Regions from separate parts of the Homo sapiens genome. Here region 1 is linked to region 2. Evidence: fine-mapped expression QTL. A gene starts in region 2. The other region holds a variant in brackets. All regions are shown on one strand. Distances are between the middles of the regions.

Region 1 (4,501 bases), 130 kb before region 2:
GAGGAGTGGGCTGGGTGTCCCAGGCTCTGTCAACACAACACATCCTTTCTACCCTTCCCTCATCCTCTCCCACCCCAGGAGGAGGGCAGGAGAGCACCCGGCAGCGGGTCTCCCACTGAGGCACTGAAGGGCTCTACTTCAAAGCCTTGAAGGTGGACACCCCTATAGTGGACATCAAAGCTCTACCCCACTAACTGTATGGCCTTGGGCGGGGCCCTGCACCTCAGAGGAGCCCACTTCCTGGTGTGTACAATGGATGTAATAACACCTGGCCCTCCTGGGATTGTCCAGGACTGAGGAGAAATCACCTTCAAAGCCCTCAGCACAGCACTTGGCACCTCTGAGCACTCAGATGTCAGGTGCTGGGCACAGCAGGTGTGAACCTTAGCCGAGGGGGTCAGGGCTCACACTGGAGATTGTGTGTGTTGGGGTGCAGAGGGGCTTCACTGTGCCAACCACAGCTCCAATCCATTCATGCGTGTGAGAATGTGGGACACGGCCGGGCACGGTGGCTCACGCCTGTAATCCCGCACTTTGGGAGGCCGAGGCGGGCGGATCATGAGGTCAAGAGATCGAGACCATCCTGGCTAACATGGTGAAACCCCATCTCTACTAAAAAGACAAAAAAATTAGCCAGGCGTGGTGGCGGGTGCCTGTAGTCCCAGCTACTTGGGAGGCTGAGGCAGGAGAATGGCGTGAACCCAGGCCACTGCACTCCAGTCTGGGTGACAGAGCAAGACTCCGTCTCAAAAAAAAAAAAGAGAATGTGGGACACAGGGCCCATCCAGGGTGGCCGACGGAGGGAAGAGAGTGATGACAGAAAGAGAACAGATCTAGCCGGGAGCGGTGGCTCACGCCTATAATCCGAGCACTTCGGGAGGCTGTGGCAGGCGGATTACTGGAGGTTGGGAGTTCAAGACCAGCCTGGCCAACATGGTGAAACCCCGTATCTACTAAAAATACAAAAAAATTAGCCGGGTGCAGTGACGGCGTGCCTGTAATCCCAGCTACTCGGGAGGCTGAGGCAGGAGAATCGCTTGAACCCAGGAGGCAGAGATTGCGGTGAGCTGAGATCATGCCACTGCACTCCAGCCTGGGGTATAGAGCGAGACTTAATCTCAAAAATAAATAAATAAATAAATAAATAAATAAATAGGCCGGGTATGGTGGCGCATGCCTGTAATTCCAGCTACTTGGGAGGCTGAGGCAAAAGAATCACTTAAACCCAGGAGGTGGAGGTTGCAGTGAGCCAAGATTGTGCCACTGCACTCCAGCCTGGGTGACAGAGCAAGACTCTGTCTCAAAAAAAAAAAAAAAAAAAAGAGAAACGATCTAACAGGCTCCACGTGGCAGCCTGGAGGGGTCTTTGTGGAACCCCTGAGAAGTATTGATGCTTAGGCAAACCCATGACAACAGGATCTAAATTCACCCCCAGAAGCCCAGGATGATGTGCTGGATCACCACCAAACAGGGGTCCACTGCCAGGACCCCAGAATAATCCAGGCCACCTGAGTGACCTGGCTGGCCTGTCCCTGCCCCATTTCCCAGTAGTCAAGGGAGACATTCCCCATTCCAAAAGAAGGAGGCCAGGAGGCAGGCCCAGGGGGACTTTTGAAGGAGCCCAGCCACAGAGCTGGTTCTTGGCCATTTGTCAAGGAATTCCCCCAAGGCGATGCTTTTCAAAATGTTGTCTCCAAACCCCCGGAGGGAGAGGTGCTTCTGAGACACTGGGAGGAGGGGATAGCAGAAAGAAGGCTGAGAATCTGGGATTCAACCTCCCTACCATGGCCCACTTCAACCAGAGACCCCCAGGGTAATTTCAGGGGGAAATCACCTTCTAATAGGGTACTGGTTCCCTATCAAGAAGACCCAAAGGAAAAACCTAATGGTGGAATATTAAACAGAATGCTAGGAGAACCACTCTTGGGGAGGACGGCCAGCCGGAAGTCTGGAAGCAAAGAAGTGGCGGGTCTAAGCTTGGCCCCCTCCCCAACCTGGGCCTATCCCAGTGACCCAGGGCCCCCAAACTCCTATGAGGCAACTTAAAGACTCCTTCTGGTGCATAACCCAATAGACAGAACCCACCGGGACACTAAGACAGACTGGTCCCTGCCCCCACAGGCCCCTGAAGTGGTGCATACCCCAACACACAGAACCCACCAGGGACACTAAGACAGGCTGGTCCCTGCCCCCACAGGCCCCTGAAGTGACAGCCCCACTCCCTCCCCGAGTAACTGGGAGGCATTGGCAGGGTGCCCCAGCCTGGTCACCACCCAGTCTGCTGGCCTCTGCCTACTTAGCTGCACAGGCCCCTGCCTAGGCCCCTGCCTGGGCCCCTGCCTCCCCCTACCCCCACAGGGGCCTGCCAGGAAAAACATTCTCCAGAATCCAGACCATGACCCACTTTC[TCA/A]CACACACACACACACACACACACACACACACGAAGGGCTACACACTGTCCTAGGACCACGGACCTCCAAGGCTGCCTCCTGATTGACGTTGGGGAGACAAAGGGAGAGAGACCCCTACTCCAGATGGCCAGGCCTGCACCCGGAGCCAAGCCCCTTGGAGAAGGAGGGTGGGGTGTACTGAGCAGGCAGGGGGCACAGGGCCAACACTGGACCCAGTGGTTCCAAAGACCCCTCCAGGCTGCCACGCGGAGGAAGCAGAGCCCCTCTTCTAGGGGATGGCACCTATTTCTATCAGTAGCTCCTTCCCACCTCCCTCACAGGCCCCACACTCTCATCCAGACACCCAAGGGTGGGGCAGAGGAGGGTGGTCGCCTGTCCCCCTGCAGGGGGCTCTGAGCAGAAACATGGAAACCAGTTACTATGAAGCACAAGTGTCAAGTGGAGCTGCAGCCACTGTCTCCCAGAGTGCTGGAAGGTCAGGAGAGGAGGCCGTTCCACCCCTAATGCTTGGCACCTCCAGCAGCTTCAGGCGACTCCCCTACCCTCTCTGGAGGAAGGCCCCAAGGTTCAAGAAAACCCACCAGCTCCTTCCACTGTGTCCTTTTTGGGGTAGGAAAATTGTGGGGAGGGGAGGCAGAAAATGGCCAGTCCCTCCACAACCGCTGTGAGCCAAGCCTGGACCCTAAGATGAAAGAACTCCTGCCTTGTCTCAATGGGGTCTGGGGAAGGACACTGTCAGGGAAATATGTCCAGAGGACCCCACAGTGACCCCGTCTGCCTCTGCCCTGCCCCATGGGCTCTGTCCCAGAGCAAGAGCCCCCCTCTTTTAAAGGCCCCAGGCAAGATGATTTCAGCGAAGCATTCCTGGGCCTCAGGACTCAAGGAAACTGCACCTCGAGGCATGCACCTCTGCCCCTTCCTGCTGCCTGCAAAGTCCATGGCTTCCCTGTTCACAGAAACCAGACAGACCCTACCTCTGCTGCCTGTTAGAGGCCTCTCAGCCTGGATCCGAGGCTCCAAGGCAGGGTCATCTTGATCTTCCCTTGCCTACCTGCAACCCACTCTAAAGAAAGGTAAACAGGCTGGTAGGGGCAGAAGCCTGCAAGGATACCCCTCACTTGGGACAGCCTGTCCCTCTGTGGCTCTGGGTTGGGGGGGATGTGGCAAGCTTCGTGTCACTGTGCCTGCAGCCTGGCACCTTGGCCTCTGAACCCAGGCTACCTGGGGTGGCCATGACTCAGGGATGGATTATGAGACCATCTCTTCCCTTCCTGTTGCCCAGGGTTACAGTTTCTCCCTCCTGCAGAGGCAATGCCAGCCCCACCCTGGCCGGGGCACCAGCCTAGCTTGGTTGGCCACCTGACCCGCTGGCTTAAAGGCATAGATCTTTGCTGCACCTCCACAAATTCCGAGGAGGACAGGATTATTCCCAGTGGCCCCACGCCCCCATACAAGACCCCAGGCCCAGAGCATTCCTCCAGATAGGGTCAGGAAGGGATGGGACCTACTTTTGGCACAAATGAGATGTAAATAAAATATAAATATGTATAAATAAAAGTACTTTCTGCAAACACACTGGCAGAAGAGCTGAGCAGAAAGAACTGTGGATGTGAATTTCAGCTCTAAGAGAGGGAGATGAGCCACATGGGCTACCTGAGCCTCCATTTATGGAGTGCATCGTTTACAAGAGCGAATACACCTACTTTGTGAGGCTGCTGTGAAGACTGAGCCCAGCATATCGTGATAACTAGTAGCTATTATGAAGGGATGGTCACAAGATGATGGTGGGGTACTCTAAGCTTCAGCTAGCAAAACGGGGCACCACAGCTGTGAGGACTTCAACCCCCTCGAGTGGGGAGGGAGCGCTGAGACAAGCAGAGGCAGAGAGCCCACCCTAACAGGGGATTCCAGGGGAACTGGCAGCAGACCAATCCTCTACCTCCACCTGTTTTCAGAAACCTGGGGAAGCAAGCCAGGAAAGAGGGACGTGGCGAGGTTCTTGACAACACAGCTCCCTAGATACAAAGCAGGTGCACAAAGTAGGTGCTCAATAAATATTTGTTGAATGAGCAAATGAGGTCACCCTGTTT
Region 2 (4,250 bases):
GGAGGCCTCTTCTGGAAGCCCACCCCAGTACTCACCCACCCTTAGCGGGAGCTCACACCAGAAGCGATGGGCGCTAAAGGGACAGGCTGTGTGTCCTTCAGGGTTTGCACCCACCGGCCTGTGAGCGCCCTGCGCAAAAGCCAGGCTCCTGTGCCTTGAGTTCCCAGTTCCTAGCGCAGTATTTGACACTGGCACATGACAGGTGCTTTCTATGTCGGCTAGTAGTAGAACAAAAGACTAGGAAACTCTTTCGATGTGGGAAGAGTTGGGTCAGAAGGTTCTCCTGAGAAACCAGAAAGGCCAGGAATGTGGAGACTAGTCATCCAGGACGCAAAAGATGAAAATGGAGTTTTAGTGGGTAATAGGGTCTTAGCACACTCCTCTCTAGCGGTTCTCTCCTGTCTGGCGCTTAACAACCGAAGAATAAGTGGATGGACCCCGGTGGCCCCTCGGGCAGCCCTCCAGGATTCATGGGCCGCAGAGGAACGTCAACCCCCTTCCCACTGGCTGATAATGCCCCGAGGGGCAGCCCCCCAGGTGCCCATGTGGTTGGTGGGTGGGATCCAGATCTCCGCAGAGCCCCTGTTACAGGTTTCTCTTGTTCGGGGTCTTGTAGCCAGAGAGGGGCGGCTGACTGGGAGTCCTTCCCGCGTTCCCCTCCCTGCAGAGCGAGTGGATGCGCGTCTTCCCCGGCAGAGTGCAGGATGCCGGCGACACATTTGCCTGGGAACAGTGGGAGGGTCCCCTTTCCTCCGGGGCCGGTGAACTACTCGCCTCTCCGCCTGCAGGCTCCGGAGCAGGTGACCGGATCTTCCCTTGGCCCTTCTCCCGCCGGTTCTCGGACCACTCCCTCTGGAAGGAAGTCTCTCCGCCCTTCCTCTTCCTCCCCGCCCCCGTCCCGCTGGTGTGGCTGCAGGCTCGAGCTGGGGTCACTCGGCGGCCAGTGTGCGCAGGTCTCCTGGTCGCCGGCCAGAGGGCGAAAGCATTCACCCGAGGCCCCCAGCTTCGCGGCTGCCTTGGCTGCGAGCAACGAGGGAAGAGGAGGCAGGCGCTCCAAAACTGGGCGAAGATTCCTATCCTAATTTCTAACTCGAGCCTCCCACCGTCAGTGCGCTTAATGGCGCTGCTGGCCGGATGGATAATCGAGCTCTCTGGAGGGACAGACGCGGCCGCCATCCCTAATAAATCGTGAATAACGAATGAGGGAATCGACCATCCTCATGAGGCCCACGGGCGTCCAGTAACGCAGTATCGATTCGCTTCCCCGGCGTCGGCCTCACCGCTACTCCCGGCGTTTCCAAGCCTCCCTCCTCGTTCTCTCCCTCCTGCCGGAGCCACTGCGGACCGGAGCCCCAGCGCCAGGTGGAGCCGGGGCGCCAGTGGGAGTCGGGCCCAGCCGTCTTGGCGCTCGCCCGACTCTCCCGCCCGCGCGCCCAGGGAGGCGCACAGGCAGCGCGCAGCGCAGGGCGCGAGCGAAAAATGCGGGAATCAGCGCCAGGCAGGAGAAAAGGCGCGGGCCCACCTTACAGCCCGGCGCCTCGTTTCCTAGTCCAGTGTGGCCGCTCGCCTTCGGCCGGATTATTGTGTCCCAGACCCGGAGCCTGAGTTCCCATCCTCAGCGGGCCTCCGTTCTTCTCTGCCCGAGCACGCCGGGGGCGCAGCCTCCGCCAGAGCTACCCGATCCCCCCGCGGCGAGGCCCCCCACCCGGCCTCACCCCGCACCTCCACTCCCCTCTCGCGATTGCTCCCTGCCAGGCGCCCAGGCTGGATCCTGGTGCGCCGCTTTTCGGGGCCAGCGCCCCTGCCGCCGAGGGGGCAAGGGGAGTGGGGAGGACACGCTCGCCCTCCCAGATGCAGTTATTAATTTTAAGGGAGTGTCACTTGGAGTGAATGAAAATCGCTCGGACGCCTGGCTGAAGGCGTCGCGTCCCCCGCCGGAGCCCCGCGCCCTTTGGTCTAGGCCGGGGCGTGGAGGACCACGAGCCACCTTTCAGCCCAGTCCCCATTTCACCATTTTCCAGGCGCCCCAGTTAGGGATGGGCATCACAGTGTCAGTGGGGGGAACCCATATTTTGAAGGGAGGGGGGCTAACTGCGGAAGGTAACATAAGAGAATCCATCCTCCGGGGTCGGGGCGGCCGCATGGGAAGGGAGGGGTCTCGTCCTGGCTAGGGACCCGGCAGCCGGTGGCGGGGAGCGGCCGCGCCAGCCTCCCCCTCCTCTTCCCGTCTCTGCCAGCATCCTGAAGGAATGAGGTCACGTGGGTGAGTGGTGGGCGGGACCTACTCTTGTCTGGAGGAAAAAAGCCATTTTGTCTCCCCCCCACACTCCGGTCCCTCCCCTCCCCCCTCGGTCCCCTCCCCTCCCCTCTCCCTCCCACCCCAAGCCGCTTTCACAAACTCCTTTCTTACCGTAGGTTTCTCCCCTCCCGCCGCCCGGGCGAGCGACACGGCTGCGGCCCCCCTCCCCTCCCTTCCCTCCCTCCCTCCCATCCCCCCCTCCCCGAGACCCACCGGACCCCGAACCCAGGTAAGCGGAGCGGACTCCCCCTGCCTTTCCCTCTCCTGGCCTGTAACCCTCTGGGGATTGGGATGGGGGCCGGCCGTTCTTCGCAAGCCCCGATGGGAGGGGGAGGCTCTGAGCCGATCCTGCCTTCGCACCCCCCGCGCCCCGTCAGTCCCTAGCCCAGCTTGCCCCGTCCGCCTTTCTTTCTCCCTTTTTTCTGTCCCTTTTTCCCTTTCCTCTCTTCCAAGATGGCCGAAACGGGCTCCCCGTCTTAACGATTTGGCGTCTCCCTCGACCACCACCTCTTTGTGCAGCAGCCCCCGGGCAGACCCTGTTCCGAGGTAGCGAGGGGGAAGGTCCGGGGCAGCCGGGAGGGCTTGCGGGATGCGCGCTGGGTTGGGTCGCCGCTCCCCACGAGCCAAAGCCGCCTCTCGCTCTGCCCGGTCTACCCCCTTTTCCATCTGGGCGGGGGTCGCTCTCCCGTGGGCACAGGGGCGCCGTGGACGCGCGGGGACTTGGGGCCGGCAGAAGGGGATGTGCTTTGGGGCGGCCGCGAGGCCGGGGGAGGGCGCCCTTCCCCGCCGGGGTCCGGGTCCTCTCGGGCACCTCCCCCCGCCGGTCCCCGCTCCCCGTCCCGGCGCCGGCGCCCCGCCCCCTCCCCGAACCACCTCAGCAGAGCCTCCCTCCGGAACACCCCTCCCGGGGCCCCGCAGAAAGTTTGGCTCTAGGGAAGGTGGGAGCGGCCACCCGGTAACTGGGGTCCCTGATCCTTGGACATGGGCTCCTGGGGAAGCCCGGGCGCTGGGGGTAGAATGGGGATGGAGGGAAATTTATCGCAATATTTCCCATCGCCAGCGGAAGCAGGGGGATCTGCTAAACTGGCCCCCCTTCCCCTGGGACGCCCAGCCACCCCACCCTGCGCACGCCCTCCTACTGCTAGCTCTGAGGGCGTGGGACCCCCGGGCAAGCAGACACCCCCTGCCTGTCTCCACGGTGGGCCCGGGCTGCCCCTCGCCCTCCCCCACTGCCCCTGTCTGCCCATAATCGCTCCGGTTGGCTTGAGGTGGGAGGAGGCGGCATGGAGGCGGGTGGATTTGCCAGTGAATATTGTGGAAGTGTTACCCAGCGCTTCCCGAGATCTTTGTCCCTCAGTGTCCCCCATGCTGCCTCAGTCTCCCCAGAGGTCTGTCTCGAGGGGAGGGCTGTCTCCTGGTTGTCCCCTCCCCGCTCTGTTCTGATGCCTCCTCCTCTGGGACCTCTGGCAGTTTCTGTTCCTGAAACTCTTTAATTTCTCTCCTCCCTCCCCCCTTCACTCTGGTCCAAGGTGTTATTACTGGGAGCATAAAGCCAGCTCTGTTGCAGCTTTTTGGTGGGAAGGTTTTCCCACGGGCTCCCCTGGTTGGGGGTTGGGGGATTGAGGCTTTAGAACTGACTTTGGAATGAAGCAGGAAACCAACCCCAGGATCCAGACCATGTGTAGCTAGGTAGGGTTCAAGTTGAAGTCTTGGGGGTTGGGCAGGAAGGGGGACTCTGCTGCCCCTGGCCTTGCCTGAGAGATCTTGGTTGATGGAGCTGTTGTCATGGGAATGGAGAGAGCCCGAACAGGAAGAGGGTACAGCTTTGTGCAGGTCACATGCCCACTGCAGCCCTCCAGCCTCTGGTCCCCAGAGCGGACTTTGGAAGCTGAACTGCTTTTGTTGCTGGAAGACTTATGTTATAATTTACCCTGGGTGGACCAGGGTCGTA

Direction of the effects. Positions count from the first base shown, and alleles are read on the strand shown. Sizes are in standard deviations (SD) of each study's normalised expression.
In carriers of allele A in region 1, the expression in skin of the gene that starts at base 2,388 in region 2 tends to be higher than with TCA alone (small effect, 0.35 SD a copy in TwinsUK).

The links. PIP is the estimated chance that this variant, and not a neighbour inherited with it, causes the effect. A credible set is the group of variants that fine-mapping cannot tell apart.
Region 1: its variant is the best candidate, but not a certain one, in a credible set for the expression of PCGF2 in skin (TwinsUK, PIP 0.50).

The regions. Positions count from the first base shown.
Region 1 is chr17:38,872,998-38,877,498 of GRCh38, reverse strand. The region is part of intron 1 of LASP1 (LIM and SH3 protein 1); the gene reads right to left. Among named protein-coding and RNA genes, the nearest start is that of LASP1, 5.2 kb to the right of the region's middle. The variant TCA/A (reference allele first, on the strand shown) is at 2,409.
Region 2 is chr17:38,746,474-38,750,723 of GRCh38, reverse strand. It overlaps PCGF2 (polycomb group ring finger 2), which reads left to right and starts at 2,388. Exons shown (of 11, transcript NM_007144.3): 1 at 2,388-2,528; 2 at 2,753-2,845. LOC100287808 (a long non-coding RNA gene) reads right to left here and starts at 1,690. Exons shown (of 1, transcript NR_149004.1): 1 at 1-1,690. RefSeq lists enhancers at 2,255-2,790, 3,819-4,250.